Homo sapiens: one gene and its partner. The protein of the gene in region 2 purifies or fractionates together with the protein of the main gene of each other region. This does not show direct contact. Each region holds a gene or a part of one and is shown on either strand. Other genes may lie near its edges.

Region 1 (7,437 bases), on a different chromosome or scaffold from region 2:
TGAGGGATGAGGAGGATTTAATCAAGTGGAGAAGAGAAGGGTGTGGGAGAGGAAAGTGGGTATTTCAGGCAGGGAACAACATGGCCAAACGCGCAGAGGTGAGTCAGGCTTGTGGGGACAGGAGCAAACTGTTGAGAATTATCGGGCTGGAGACGTGTTGGTCAGGGGCCAAATATGTGCTGCTTCTTGGAGAAATCTGAAGGAATGGCGCTGAGGCTAGCCACACATGCCTCCTGTGCCCTGAGCTTCCCTCCCTCGGGGCATGAGGTCAGGAAGCTCAGGCAAATCACCTCTCCCTGCCTTTTAGGACGATGACCGGGGTGAGGAATGGGAACGGCATGAAGCGCTGCATGAGGACGTGACCGGGCAGGAGCGGACCACTGAGCAGCTCTTTGAGGAGGAGATTGAGCTCAAGTGGGAGAAGGGTGGCTCTGGCCTGGTGTTTTATACTGATGCCCAGTTCTGGCAGGAGGAAGAAGGAGGTAATGCTGGTACCCAGGCAAAGGCAGGGGTGACCCCTGCTGCATTCTTTTGGGGTTCCCTGTTCCACACGGTAGATTCTGTAGTGGTGAGCCCAAACAAAAGGCTAGGGAACAGGCTGACCTCTATTGTATACGAGAGACCAATCATCCTTTTTAAGAGTGGGGATCAGTGAGATGGAGAGAAAATGCCCCCCGCCCCGCCCCCAACAAATTCTGAATAACCCTCCCAGAGGAAGGATCTTAAAATACAAACAAGCTGGGTGCAATGGCTCATGCCTGTAGTCCGAACTACTTAAGAGACTGAGGCAGGAGGATCACTTGAGCCCAGGAGTTCAAGGTTGCAGTGAGCTATGATTCCACCACTTTACTCCAGCCTGGGGGACAGAGTGAGACCTTCTCTAAAACAAACAAATGCCCCGCTGGGTGCAGTGGCTCACGCCTGTAATCCCAGCACTTTGGGAGGCTGAGGTGGGCAGATCACGAGGTCAAGAGATCGAGACCGTCCTGGCCAACATGGTGAAACCTCGTCTCTATGAAAAATACAAAAATTAGCTGGGTATGGTGGCATGCACCTGTAGTCCCAGCTACTTGGGAGGCTGAGGCAGGAGAATCACTTGAACCCGGGAGGCAGAGGTTGGAGTGAGCCAAGGTCATGCCACTGCACTCCAGAATGAGATTCTGTCTCAAAAAAAAAAAAAAAAAAAAAGCCAAAAAAACTCTAGGTTTAACTCTTAATAGAACTGAGAGTCCTTAATGTACTCTGTTGGATGCTTTTCTGTCCCTACAGATTTTGATGAACAGACAGCCGATGACTGGGATGTGGACATGAGTGTGTACTATGACAGAGGTACTGGGCAAGGAGTGGCAATACTGGAGGTGAAACAGGTGCCCTGGCCTTGCAGTGACACTTTACCAGAGCTAGCAAAGGCTGAGACAGGGTACCGTTCCCGTTCCCTTGGGGTAGCCCACTGAGAGGGTTCCTCTTAAAACATCTTTGGTTGTGTACATTAAGTGCTAGTTTTGGACAGAGCCTTCATCCTTTCTTGGAGGAGGAGGAGGGATAGATAGCCCTTAGGGGCTCTAGGTCTGATGGTCAGGCCCTGGTAGGGTGGGCTGGTCAGAAGCTCAGGCTCTAGTAAGGGTTTAGATTTTAGAAGAGGAAATGACCCGGGTGGGGGAAATAGCCAAGTAGGGGAGGGAAGACCTGGGTTCTAATCCTCTCTCTGTCATTTGTTGGCTCTGTTACTTTTCTGCACCACAATCTTCTCATCTGTATGATTGGGGAGAGCCATGGTTCCTACTTTTGGGGAGCTCCCAGTCTAATGAGAGAGATACAGAACACTATTAAAATGAATAAGTCAATCTTACGAGGGGGTCCTAGAAACCTGATTCTTCCCCCTTCTTTGAGAGGGACGCTTCCATAAACTGAGCTCTGTTTCCTCAGATGGTGGAGACAAGGATGCCCGAGACTCTGTCCAAATGCGTCTGGAACAGAGACTCCGAGATGGACAGGAAGATGGCTCTGTGATCGAACGCCAGGTGGGCACCTTTGAGCGCCACACCAAGGTGAGTTAGCACTGTGCCCACCCCATGGACCCCTCTCTTTTCCTTCTCTACTTTAATTCCTTCTCCCATCCCCATTCTCCCTGCTCCCAGCAGGAGCCCCATTTCTTGAGTCTTGTCCCTTCACTCTGCAGGGCATTGGGCGGAAGGTGATGGAGCGGCAGGGCTGGGCTGAGGGCCAGGGCCTGGGCTGCAGGTGCTCAGGGGTGCCTGAGGCCCTGGATAGTGATGGCCAACACCCCAGATGCAAGCGTGGATTGGGGTAAGTGTGACTGAGGGACTTCCCTGGGGGCCCAAGCCTTTCAGCTATGCCCTGGTTTCCCTCTTCCCACTGGTTTTGGCATGGCTGCTGGGTACTCGTGCGGGATGAAATTCAAAACAGTTAAGAGGAAAAAGTGGATCTGGGCCAGGCACGGTGGCTCAAGCCTGTAATCCTAGCGCTTTGGGAGGCTGAAGTGGTAGGATTCCTTGAGCCCAGTTTGAAACCAGCCGGGCAACATATGAGACTGTCTCTGTTAGAAAAATAAAAAGTCCGGGCGTGGTAGCTCACGCCTGTAATCCCAACACTTTGGGAGGCCCAGGTGGGCAGATCATTTGAGGTCAGGAGTTAGAGACCAGCCTGGCCAACATGGTGAAATCCCCGTCTCTACTAAAAATACAAAAATTAGCCGGGCGCAGTGGCTCATGCCTGTAATCCTAGCACTTTGGGAGGCTGAGGCGGGTGGATCACGAGGTCAGGAGTTTCAGACCAGCCTGATCAAGATGGTGAAACCCTGTGTCTACTAAAAATACAAAAAATTAGCTGGGCACGGTAGTGGGTGCCTGTAATCCCAGCTACTCAGGAGGCTGAGGCAGGAAAATCGCTTGAACCCAGGAGGCAGAGGTTGCAGTGAGCCAAGATGGCGCCACTGCACTCTAGCCTGGGTGACAGAGCAAGACTCTGTCACAAAAAAAAAAAATTAGCTGGGCATGGTGGCATGCGCCTGTAGTCCCAGCTACTCTGGAGGCTGAGGCAGGAGAATCGCTTGAACCCAGGAGGTGGAGGTTGCAGTGAGCCGAGATCACGCCATTACAATCCAGCCTGGGTGACATAGTGAGACCCCATCTCAGAAATAAATAAATAAATAAAGTAAATCTGACTTTTTTTTTTTTTTTAAAGAGTAAGCCCTAAGGCTTAACAAGATCATTCATACCCTTTGTTGGAGGAGTTTGGACTTGATGGTTACTATTAGGAAGTCTGTAGTGACAGAATGAAAATTTTATATGAGGCCCCTTCTTGCTGGCACTGTCAATGGATAGATAAGAGGGCTGGAGAACAAAGACCCAGATTTAAAGCCTCTGTCTTTGGACAAACCAGATATGTAGTAACTACTTCCCCGTCCTCTCCCAACCCCTTTAACTGGAGTTTGAGAGCAGCCTTCTCACTGAGAGCCCGTTTTTATCCAGGTACCATGGAGAGAAGCTACAGCCATTTGGGCAACTGAAGAGGCCCCGTAGAAATGGCTTGGGGCTCATCTCCACCATCTATGATGAGCCTCTACCCCAAGACCAGACGGAGTCACTGCTCCGCCGCCAGCCACCCACCAGCATGAAGTTTCGGACAGACATGGCCTTTGTGAGGGGTTCCAGTTGTGCTTCAGACAGCCCCTCATTGCCTGACTGACCGGGTTGGGGGCTTCCTTTCATAGCTACATGATGAAAACCCTCTGCCCTGGCCTCATCTACCACTGAAGCAGAAAGGAGTCTGGGAGCAGCAGTCTTCGTGGCTGGTTCAGGGTGTTTTGTTCCGAGCCTGCCTGCCTGCCGGTTCTATACCTCAGGGGCATTTTTACAAAAAGCCCCCTCCCGTCCCCTCCCCTTGGATATTAGGGGTAACGACCGCTTGTCTTTGGTCTCTAACCCTAATCTCTGGGCTTGCCCTTTGCCTCCTGCAGAACTTTGAAAAGCTGGGTTGAGTGAGGCTATCAGCACAGCCTTCCTTGGGGACTCTGAAGGTGTCCCCACGAAGGCCAGAAAGGGGGAAAGGGACCTGGGCGAGGAGAGGATTTGTGGTGCTTGGAAGAGCCGGCCTTGGGTGGGCCCTCCACCGCCTCTACCCTCACTGGGTGGGACTGCCAGCGGAGAGTCCGCGGGAGGTGGCTTGGGTGTGCGACGTCACGGAAGAATAAAGACGTTTACTACTGGAGCTCCCTTACTTTTCTAATTCGAGTCTGAAGGTTAGAGAAATTCCGAGAGCGATTTTCCCGCAAAGACCCCACATTCGACCCACTACCCGCGAGAGAAATGCGGCTGCGCCGCCCGCCCCTCGGCGTCTAGCTTCGTCCCCGCCGTGAGGGCGGGACTTCCTCTCGTTGGCTCGCCGTTTCCGACGCTGTCCGGAAGTCGAGTTAGTCTAGTTAGTATCGGCCTGTTATCTCCTTTTGCGCGACACGGTCTCAGCTGTTCCGCCTGAGGCGAGTGACGCTGGCCGCCAACGAGGTATACGTACTGGGACCCTCGCCCTCAGTCTCGTCTCCGGCGCGGCTACCTGCCCCGTTTTCCCTGTGAGTTGACCTGCTCCGGGCCGCGGGCCGCCAATGGCAGGGGCCGCTCCGACCACGGCCTTCGGGCAGGCGGTGATCGGCCCGCCGGGCTCAGGGAAGACCACGTACTGCCTGGGCATGAGTGAGTTCCTGCGCGCGCTGGGCCGGCGCGTGGCGGTGGTGAACCTGGACCCGGCCAACGAGGGGCTGCCGTACGAGTGTGCCGTGGACGTGGGCGAGCTGGTGGGGCTGGGCGACGTGATGGACGCGCTGCGCCTGGGGCCCAACGGCGGCCTGCTCTACTGCATGGAGTACCTGGAAGCCAACCTGGACTGGCTGCGTGCCAAGCTCGACCCCCTCCGCGGCCACTACTTCCTCTTCGACTGCCCAGGCCAGGTGGAGCTCTGCACGCATCACGGCGCCTTGCGCAGCATCTTCTCCCAAATGGCGCAGTGGGACCTCAGGGTGCGTCTCAGGGCGGGGAGGCCCATTTTGCGGATGGAGTAACTGAGACAGGGAGGACAGACGCCACGCCCCCATGTCACACAGGGAGGTAGGGGCTGGGTCGCTTTGGAGTAAAACAGGCATGAGTTCAGAATCTGGCTCTGCTACTGACTGGCTGTGTGGTGTTGATAAGTCAGTTCATCACTCTGAACCTCAGTTTCCTCACGTGTAAAATGTGTTAGTAGCCAACTTGGCGATTTTGGAAGTATGGAAGGGGTTAATGTCGAAAGTGGCATGGAGATTGTTGTAAATTGGTGGGCAAAAGTAAATGAAAGAGTGGAGTCAGATGCCATGGGATTTAAACCCCTTGCCCACTGGGAGGCTCAGTGCAAGACCTCTTGTAAGAAAAAAAAAATGACTCCTATTTCCTGGGAGAAGGAAACCAGGGTGGTTATTAGAAAGAAACAGAGGCAGGAGACTAATGGGGAAAGCTTCCCCTCTGTCCTCAAGCCCTCATTCTCATGAGGGAATGCTGATCCCTGTTTCTCCAGGCCACTCTCACCCTGTCTATTCCCTCCCAGCTGACTGCCGTCCACCTCGTGGATTCTCACTACTGCACAGACCCTGCCAAGTTCATTTCAGTACTGTGTACCTCCCTGGCCACCATGCTGCACGTGGAACTGCCCCACATCAACCTCCTTTCCAAGATGGACCTCATTGAGCATTATGGGAAGCTGGGTAAGAGCTTCTGTTCCAGGCGAAGAGCAGGGCAGCAGCTGGGCTAGAATGAAGCAGACATCTCAGCTGAAGGTAGCTGCCTCTGGTGCCTTGCGTGGTCTGGTGATAGTAGCCACAGGCAGGTTCTAACTCCTGCCCATTTATTTTGTGCCACTCTGTGCTAGTTACCGTTGTAGATTTTGGAGACAAGAGAGCTACAGATGGTGTTAGGTGTTACAAAGGAATTAAAGTGATACGACAGTGAATATTTGGGAGTGAAGTGAGTGAGCTTTGGAGTAAAACAGGCATGAGTTTAAATTCTGGATCTGCCACTGAATCATCGTGTGGTCTGGGTAAGTCAGTTCATCTCTCTGGACCTCAGTTTCTCACTTCTGCTCTGAAGCAGTGGCATCTGAGCTGAGACATGAATGGTGAGAAGGAGCCAGCCAAGGGAGGACTGTTCTATGCAGAGGCACTAGTAGGAATAAAGGCCTTGTCTTAGTCAGTTTGTGCTGCCATCACAAAAATACCATAGACCAGATGGCTTAGCCAATAAATATTTATTTCTCACAGTTCTGGAGGCTGGTAAGTCCAAGATCAAGACACAAGCCGATCTGGTGTCTGGTGAGAGTCTGCTTCCTGGCTCCTAGACAGCCTCCTTCTGTCCTCACAGAAGGAGGCTATATTCTCACCTGGCACAGAGACAGAGAAGGGGTGGGAGGCCAGGGACAAAATAGGGAAGATTGAGGTAGAAGCAGGCTGGTATGAGGCAGGGGAGTTGGCTAGAGTCCCAGTGGCCAGCTTTTTTTTCTTGATAAATTAGTACTCTCGGCTGGGCGTGGTGGCTCACGCCTGTAATCCCAGCACTTTGGGAGGCCGAGGTGGGCAGATCACCTGAGGTCAGGAGTTCGAGACCAGCTTGACCAACATGGAGAAACCACATCTCTACTAAAAATACAAAAAAGTAGCCAGGCATGGTGGTGCATGCCTGTAATCCCAGCTACTCGGGAGGCTGAGGCAGGAGAATCGCTTGAACCTGGAAGGCGGAGGTTGTAGTGAGCCGAGATCTCGCCATTGCACTCCAGCCTGGGCAATAAGAGTGAAACTCCGTCTCAAAAAAAAAAAATTAGGCCAGGCGCAGTGGCTCACGCCTGTAATCCCAGCACTTTGGGAGGCCGAGGCAGGTGGATCACGAGGTCAGGAGCTTGAGAACATCCTGGCTAACACTGTGAAACTCCGTCTCTACTAAAAATACAAAAAATTAGCTGGGCATGGTGGCGGGCACCTGTAGTCCCAGCTACTCAGGAGGCTGAGGCAGGAGAATGGCGTGAACCCAGGAGAGGGAGTTTGCAGTGAGCCGAGATCATGCCAGTGCACTCCAGCCTGGGCGACAGAGCAAGACTCTGTCTCAAAAAAAAAAAAAAATTAGTACTCTCCTGAACTGGGGACATTGTTCCCTAAATAGCATCTCTAGCAACAAAGGAACCTAGAGAAGACAGATAAAATGACCAGCACATGAGCAATAGGGAGGTTGTTGGGAAAGGGAGGTGTCGGGACCTTGTCCAGGGAGGCCAGTTAGCTTCTAGTCTGGACATGGAGTGATGTAGAGTCCTCAGCTTACTTTAGGATAGAGCTGCCAGGGAGCCCAGATACTTAAGTTTTCTGGGCAGAAACAGGCCACTAGGGGGAAGTCCAACTTACTTCTTTTA
Region 2 (7,022 bases):
CCCTGTTTTTCTCTATTACTAAATGACACCACTGACTTCAGGTTTCGTTCCTGAAATACTCACAGTTTTTCCAGAAGAACCTTGTATTGTTCGTCTCCTCTGCCCCCTTCTACCTCCTGGTCCAGCTTTGTGATCAGCTCATTCTCAAACTGAAAGTAGAGGCAGAATTTCACAGGATAATGTTGCATCCTTAGAAGAAGACATGGCCAACTTTCTAGACTTGGCCAACCCATTCGCTGAGTTGTGAACTGTTTCCAGCACAGACAGGGAGGATCACAGAGGGTCACTCATAAACTGTGCACCAAGGCCCTATCAAAATCTTCTAACAAAGTCTCATGTTACTTTGTCCTTTGCATTACATTTGATTAAAAACATATTATCCAAAACATTGCTTTCTGTTACAACTATTCATATAAAAATAGAATAATAATTCTTGTTTTTCTATTTTACTTCAGTTTCATGTCTAAGTCTCTGCAGTGAGATTGCTTTTGCAGAGGTTCATAGATGCGAAATCGTCCTTTCAATATTAATACACTTTGTAGATAAGAAAACAGAGGCACAGAGAAGACATACCAGGAAAATGACATTCTCAAAGCTACAGAGTAATGGATTAGAACTTAATCCATTGCACTGCTTTCAGCCGTACTATAATAGATAGGTTTTTAAATTCAATTCACTACATTATTCTCTAGGCTATACTGAAACAGCTAGGATTAAAATGCATGAAGTTAACTTCCTTTAATTTTCTACAGACAGGTGTTGCCTTAGGAAAGACATGTAGCAAAAAAATCTTTTCCAGGCTCTGGGTTGCACTGTCTGACTCTATCTCTAATTGCTTTATAAAATGAAATGTAAAGTGAACTTTCAGATCAACATGGACTTGCATTATTAAGGTTACTGCTTCTCTATATAGAAAGAAATGAGTTATGATTTGACTATATGTCCATTTACTAATATTACGCGGTCTGCCACTTCTTACCATATGGAAATTGCCATTTCCACTGAAATTGAACTCACACTGCATCATATCAAAGAAAATGGGGATTGTGGCTTTCCGGAGCTCTACTTCAGGGGTCAGAGTGACCTCCAGAATGGGACCCACCATGGATGGGATGAATTTGATTTTGTGGGGACCTGAAATGAAAGTGAATGAAGATATTAAAAAATTATTTCACTGAAAGTAAAGTGTTAAAATCTTCCTCCACAAGTTCCATAAGAAAAGAAAAGGTTAAAACAACTCAATTCAGAAGTGAGTGACTCAGATTCTGATAGCATGTGGATGCCAGAGTAAGAGACAGTTCATTGTCAATGAAACCCACAAATCAACTTTCACTTCCAGACACACAGACAAATACATCTCAGGGTTATCTGGATTAAAATAAAAAAAAGACTTTATCGTGGGATGCTTATCACTCAGAGGTTGTGATCAGGCCTGTTCAAGGCTAGACACTCACCCAGGTTATACCACATGTCCCGGATTCTAAAGCCGATTTCCTTTCTCATGTCCCCATATCTAGGAAGAAGATCATAAACTAGAAGGAGGATTTTCAGTAGAAATGAATTGCATAAACACAATAAGAAGGAAAGTAAAAACAGTCTGTGTCTCTCTTGGTCACTCTTAAGGCCCAACCTTAAGAGATGAGGTTCATACCTAAACGAGCCCCCAAAAGGAATGAGGCGCACAGAGGCCGGGGGACCTTGTGCCGCAATAAAGCCAAATGGAAACGCTGAAAAATAGCTGAGAAGATGAGATTAACAAACTCACTTCAGGGAGAAGAGTGAGGCACAGACAAAGCCAAACAAAACACGGCAAACACTGATGAAAAGGAAGGTGAATGAAGTATGATCATACAGTACTGTGACTAATGCCTAACAGGTGACTAAATACTTATATACTTTATAGACTGATATTGGGGTAATATACATCCATTCTAGCGTGTTTTTCAAAATATTCACATTGGAAGGCTCTACACCATGCACTCTCAATGGGAGTGATACTGTCCACAAAGGGATAAATATTGGTCCTTGGGAGCAAAAAATACTTTGCTGTTTTTGTATATGTAGGCAGTTTTTGAGGGAGGAACCAGAAGTAGAGGGACACTAAATAATTTTCCTACATATCGCAGATATCCCAACAAGGGGAACACAACTAAAATTTCAAAGTCTTCAAATAATACATTCCTCAAGTTATTTTTTAACGACATGGTCTTTGGATTCCAGTCTCTCAATGAAATGAAATGCTTCCCTAAATCTCTTATCACTTCTGCACATAATTCCATTTTGAATTCCAAACCAGGAATCTGGAGGGCATTTTAATGCAATGTCTGAGACCTGGCTTTCTCTGCTGAAATGGCAGGGAGGTGGAGCAACTGTGCTGAAGGAGTGTGCTTTGTGAAGCGCTATGAATGAGGAGGTACTATGCCTGCAATTTGGGGAAGCTGCCAGCAGAGGCGCAGCTGTTCTTGGGGATGGGCAAGCTGACAGCCAAGGTCCGTCTCCAGGTACAGATTTGATAAAAAGCATGGGATGACTGATGGGAAGATGGTTGGGCCTTAAGAAAAGAGAGCTGAACCTGGGTGAATGTGAGGCCTATTAAGTAATTAGTTGAAGACTTACCTCACTAACAACATGGGTAGCCACTAAATAGTAATTTCTGTGATACCTAAAATATTGCTCTCAATGTAAACAAATGGAAGAAGCCCCTTCCCGATCTTAACTTTAAAAGGACACTTACTTTTTAACAATTTTGTTGCGCTTGGCTTGTGAGAAGGTTTCAAGCTGAAGGGACTCATGGGTGAGAAATGCAACTGCCAAATGGAAGTAATTGTTCCAGAGCTGTTCAAAATTAATTGTGTGGGTAAAGGGAAATGAAAAATAACATTAATAAGGGCCATAATAAAACAATGTCACATGGTAAAAAGTCATTAACAAGAGATTAATGAAAGAACAAAATACAATCTACATTCTTCTTAGGTTTTGATTATTCAATCCTAAAAGTTTTGAGACTTAATGTTAAGCTTTTTAAAAAAATTTAAGCTATTATATTTTTCTTTACTCCTGGGATAAAGGAAAACTGCTGCCAAGAAGTGTATCTATTTATAGTATGTACTTTGGCACTATGTTTCAAAAGTCCTAAAAGTTTGCCAAACTTTTGAATTAGTAAACACTTTTAGGACTTTATCCTGATGAAATAACCATGAATTTTGTTGTTGTTGTTTGATCCAGAGTCTCACTCTGTTGCCCAGGCTGGAGTACAGTGGTACAATCTCGGCTCACTGCAACCTCCGCCTCCCAGGTTCAAGCGTCCTGCCTTATCCTGACGAGTATCTGGGATTACAGGCACCCACTACCAGGCCTAGCTAGTTTTTGCATTTTTAGTAGAGATGGAGTTTCGCCATGTTGGCCAGGCTGGTCTTAAACTCCTGACCTCAGGTGATCTGCCCGCCTTGGCCTCCCAAAGTGCTGAGACTATAGGCGTGAGCCACCGTGCCCAGCCAAGCACGAATATTTTTAAATATTTAAAGGAAGGAAGTCCATCACAGTGTTATTTAATATAATAGAAAATGGAAACAATCTAAATGTTCGTAAGAAGAATTTGGTTAAATACATCATGGACCAGTCATAGAACAGATGATATTCAGCCATTAAAAACAGGAAAATATTCAACATTATTGAAAAGATCACAGATCATTGAAAAAGGAAAACAGATTAACAGAGTACCAAAGAACTGCACAGCTCAATTCCATTTTGGCAAATATACATACACATACATACAATATATATTCATCTATATGTGCATGCATCTCTGTGTGTGTATGTGTGTATACTTTCCTCTACTTATGATTTTCAACTTTTAAAGTTCTGAGGCAGGAAAACAGGGCCTGGAGGCAGGGCACTGAAGGCCAATTCACACTGACTTCCTAGAACTGAATCAAAAGGAAAACCCCACCTCTCCACACCCAAGTAACAAAAGGATCAGAGGCTACCCCTTTGCACTCTGTGGCAGATGAAAAATTGAAAGTACCTCTGATTAGTCCCCTCCCACAATTGGTGGGAGGGTCAGACTGGTCACATGCTACTCCTTCATTTACATAGGGTGTAACCAAGTAACCAATGGGAAAACTTCTACAGGGTATTTAAACGCCAGAAAATTCTGTAACCAGTGCTCTTGAGCTACTTGCTTGAGCCTGCTCCCACTCTGTGGAGTATACTTTCATTTCAATAAATCTGGCTTTTATTGCTTCATTCTTTCATTGCTTTGTTTGTGCATTTTGTTCAAAACGTCAAGAACTTGGACAATCTGTAGTCAAGGACCTCCACTGATAACAGTTCCACAGATACACGCAAAGACAAAGAACACAGAAAGCACATCACCCACAAAATGCAGAGTACTCTGGAAGGTAAGCTCCATGACAGCAAGGAACTTATCTGCCTTCACCAGGGAAATGCCCCTACCAGGGCGCAAAACAGGGCCCTGTACATGTAAGTACTCTAACATTTGTTAAATGGATGAATGGATAAGTAAATGAATGAATGAATGAAAATAGAGCTAGCGGTCATCCGTTTTGCAATTCCTTTGGACTTTCAACAAACTGTGCATAAGAACTGTTCTTTAGAACCAAACTCATTTGTCGGTAGGAGAGTTACCTGTGTGCTTATTTGTAGCCATGTGTGTCTATGTGCATTTGTGTAAATATACAAAGGGTCAACTCCAAATGTTTATAGCGACAAGGAGGACTATTTATATTTTTGATCTTCTACTATTACTCTTTAAGATTTTTTTTTTACATATGTTACCTTTATAGAAAGAAGAAACCACCCCTATTTTGTTGTGTTTGGAGGACAGTGTGACAGGCATATGTGCTTTAGGAAATGAAAAAACACAGGAAAACCTTTTTCATGTGAAAACAGTGAAATCTGAGGAGACATTTTCCAAATTCATATAGTTCTCTTGCCATGGCCAAGAATTCTAGAAGCAGGTAGGTGAGTCACATGCCTACCTGAAGTTCAAAGCTTGCCTGATCCATGAAGAATCTTGTGAGAACTTCAGCAAACTGATTTATAGCACGGAGAAAAACCCTGCGGAAGGAAAACACCAGATAAAGAAGCCAACTGTATGTCCTTTGAAACCTTTTCCCACCTATATTAAGAACTAAACCAAACCAAACCTGAACTTGGCATCATAAGACCTCATAATCTAACAGTGTCCTTGCAGACAACAGCATAACACCATCCGCAGATGGGGCACAGGAGGTCAGTTTACAGAACAAACAAGAAGAGCCACTCAGGGCCACATCCCAATTTAGGTAATTGAAGGTAGATCTGAGACTGCAAACCAGGACTCTTAAGCCTCAGAGGAGGGTAATATATATAGACTCTATTATGATCCTTCTGTTTAAGCTTAGGGTTTCTGGTGTAATTTTTTAAATCTAATCTGTACATAGCAGAGAAGGCTTCTTCTAATCAGGTGTTAGAGTAGAATTACTCAGAATTGGGTATCATGTAGAGTTAATAATAATGCTTACAATAATGGTTTATTTATCTCATTAAACTCTAACACTCTTTTAATATAATATATATTCAGTTCATTTCACTTCTGTTCAACAAGTATTTGTTGTGGGCTAGCAATTGCAAGGCACAGGCTCACGTCTGTGTTGAAAGACACAGTTTCTGATCTTAAGAAATTTACAGCTTGGTTGGGGAAATTAACAACATGTACATCTATTACCCAACATAGAATCTGAAAACAATTCTATAAGAAGGTTTGAATGGGGTATGGAAAATCGAAGGAAGAAGAGATGACATCCAGGTCAGAAAGGCTTCCTCTGGAGGTGACGCTTCAGAAGAACCTTATGGAATAGCTGGAATGCTGACAGCCAGAGGTTATGGGGAAGGCACTGCTAGCGGAAGACCGGTGTGAGGCAGAGCAGACCATGTGTTCAGGGACTGGGCAGAGGCCAGTTTGGTTGGAGTACAGGTAGCATACACAGGGAAGTAGCAGAAGCAACTAGTTAGTTTGGCACTGTGTATCAAAAGCCCTATAATTTCACCAAACTTTTGAACTACTAAATTATTTTAGGAGTATATCCTGATAAAATAACCATGGATATTTTTAAATATGTAAAGCAAGGAAGGCCATGACAGTGCTATTTCACATTAATAGAAAATGGAAAGAATCTAAATGTTCATAAGAAGAATCTGGTTAAATACATCATGGACCGGTCATAGAACAGACACTAACTGGTGAGCCCTGAATATCAGGATGACACAGGCCACGTGGAGCCACGGAAAGGTGCAGTGGAGAGTTGAGGATGACAATTACCATGAGAGCACTGAAGAGACGACGCTAGAGAAGGGAGTAGAGAGCCCGAGGTGGAGCAAAGGCAATTACCCTGGGAAAATCAAGATCACGAGCACATAAATTAGGACCTCTGGAGCAGGAAGATCCTCACTTTACAGATGATGGGTTTGAGGCAAAGGGATTTAAAGACATTTCCCAAAGTTCACACAGCAGCCTTAGGTATTCAGACAAATGCCTCAGGGCCAGCCATGGGCTGTCTCACCTGTTTTGAGTCATATTCATCACCATCCAATCTTTGGCATAGACATTCTTTCCAATCAGGTCCTTGAACATGATAAAAGTTTCCATGAGGAAGTCCTGCGGAGAACAGAGGAGTGGTTGGGGGAAAACTGGGTTACGTTCATAGTCTTTATTCTGGCGTGTATACAAGCAGAACCACAACCTCAGAACAGGATGTTCCTAGCCCCACAGTAACAGCCCATCTTTCAAGGGTTTTAGGAATAACAAAGCATTCTTACAGCTGGCTGTGATGCAATTTGATTTTTATATTGTAGGACCCTATAAGGAAGATGAGGACAAAAAGAATCATCCACATTTTACAAATGGTACAACTGAGGCTGAGAAAAACTAAAGGACTCACTTAAGGGCATAGAAAGTAGGAAGGAGGGTTGGGTGTAGTGGCTTACACCTGTAATCTCAGCACTTTGGGAGGCCGAGGTGG

Evidence for each region. The genes of interacting proteins can lie anywhere in the genome.
Region 1: the proteins of DOCK5 (region 2) and GPN2 purify together in Homo sapiens (affinity purification with mass spectrometry; 2 studies listed by BioGRID and IntAct, with this or other methods). This does not show direct contact.

Annotation. Positions count from the first base shown.
Region 1 is NC_000001.11:26,887,281-26,894,717, reverse strand, and holds the start of GPN2 (GPN-loop GTPase 2), read left to right. Parts: upstream 1-4,434; 5' UTR 4,435-4,621; coding exon 4,622-5,032; intron 5,033-5,592; coding exon 5,593-5,749; intron 5,750-7,437. Other genes in the region: GPATCH3 (G patch domain-containing protein 3), read left to right, coding at 308-482, 1,270-1,329, 1,927-2,048, 2,180-2,307, 3,492-3,708. UniProt on the Homo sapiens protein: Small GTPase required for proper localization of RNA polymerase II and III (RNAPII and RNAPIII). May act at an RNAP assembly step prior to nuclear import.
Region 2 is NC_000008.11:25,362,683-25,369,704, reverse strand, and holds part of DOCK5 (dedicator of cytokinesis protein 5), read right to left. Parts: intron 6,659-7,022; coding exon 6,564-6,658; intron 5,080-6,563; coding exon 5,001-5,079; intron 2,836-5,000; coding exon 2,735-2,835; intron 1,514-2,734; coding exon 1,455-1,513; intron 1,135-1,454; coding exon 980-1,134; intron 150-979; coding exon 64-149; intron 1-63. UniProt on the Homo sapiens protein: Guanine nucleotide exchange factor (GEF) for Rho and Rac. GEF proteins activate small GTPases by exchanging bound GDP for free GTP. Along with DOCK1, mediates CRK/CRKL regulation of epithelial and endothelial cell spreading and migration on type IV collagen.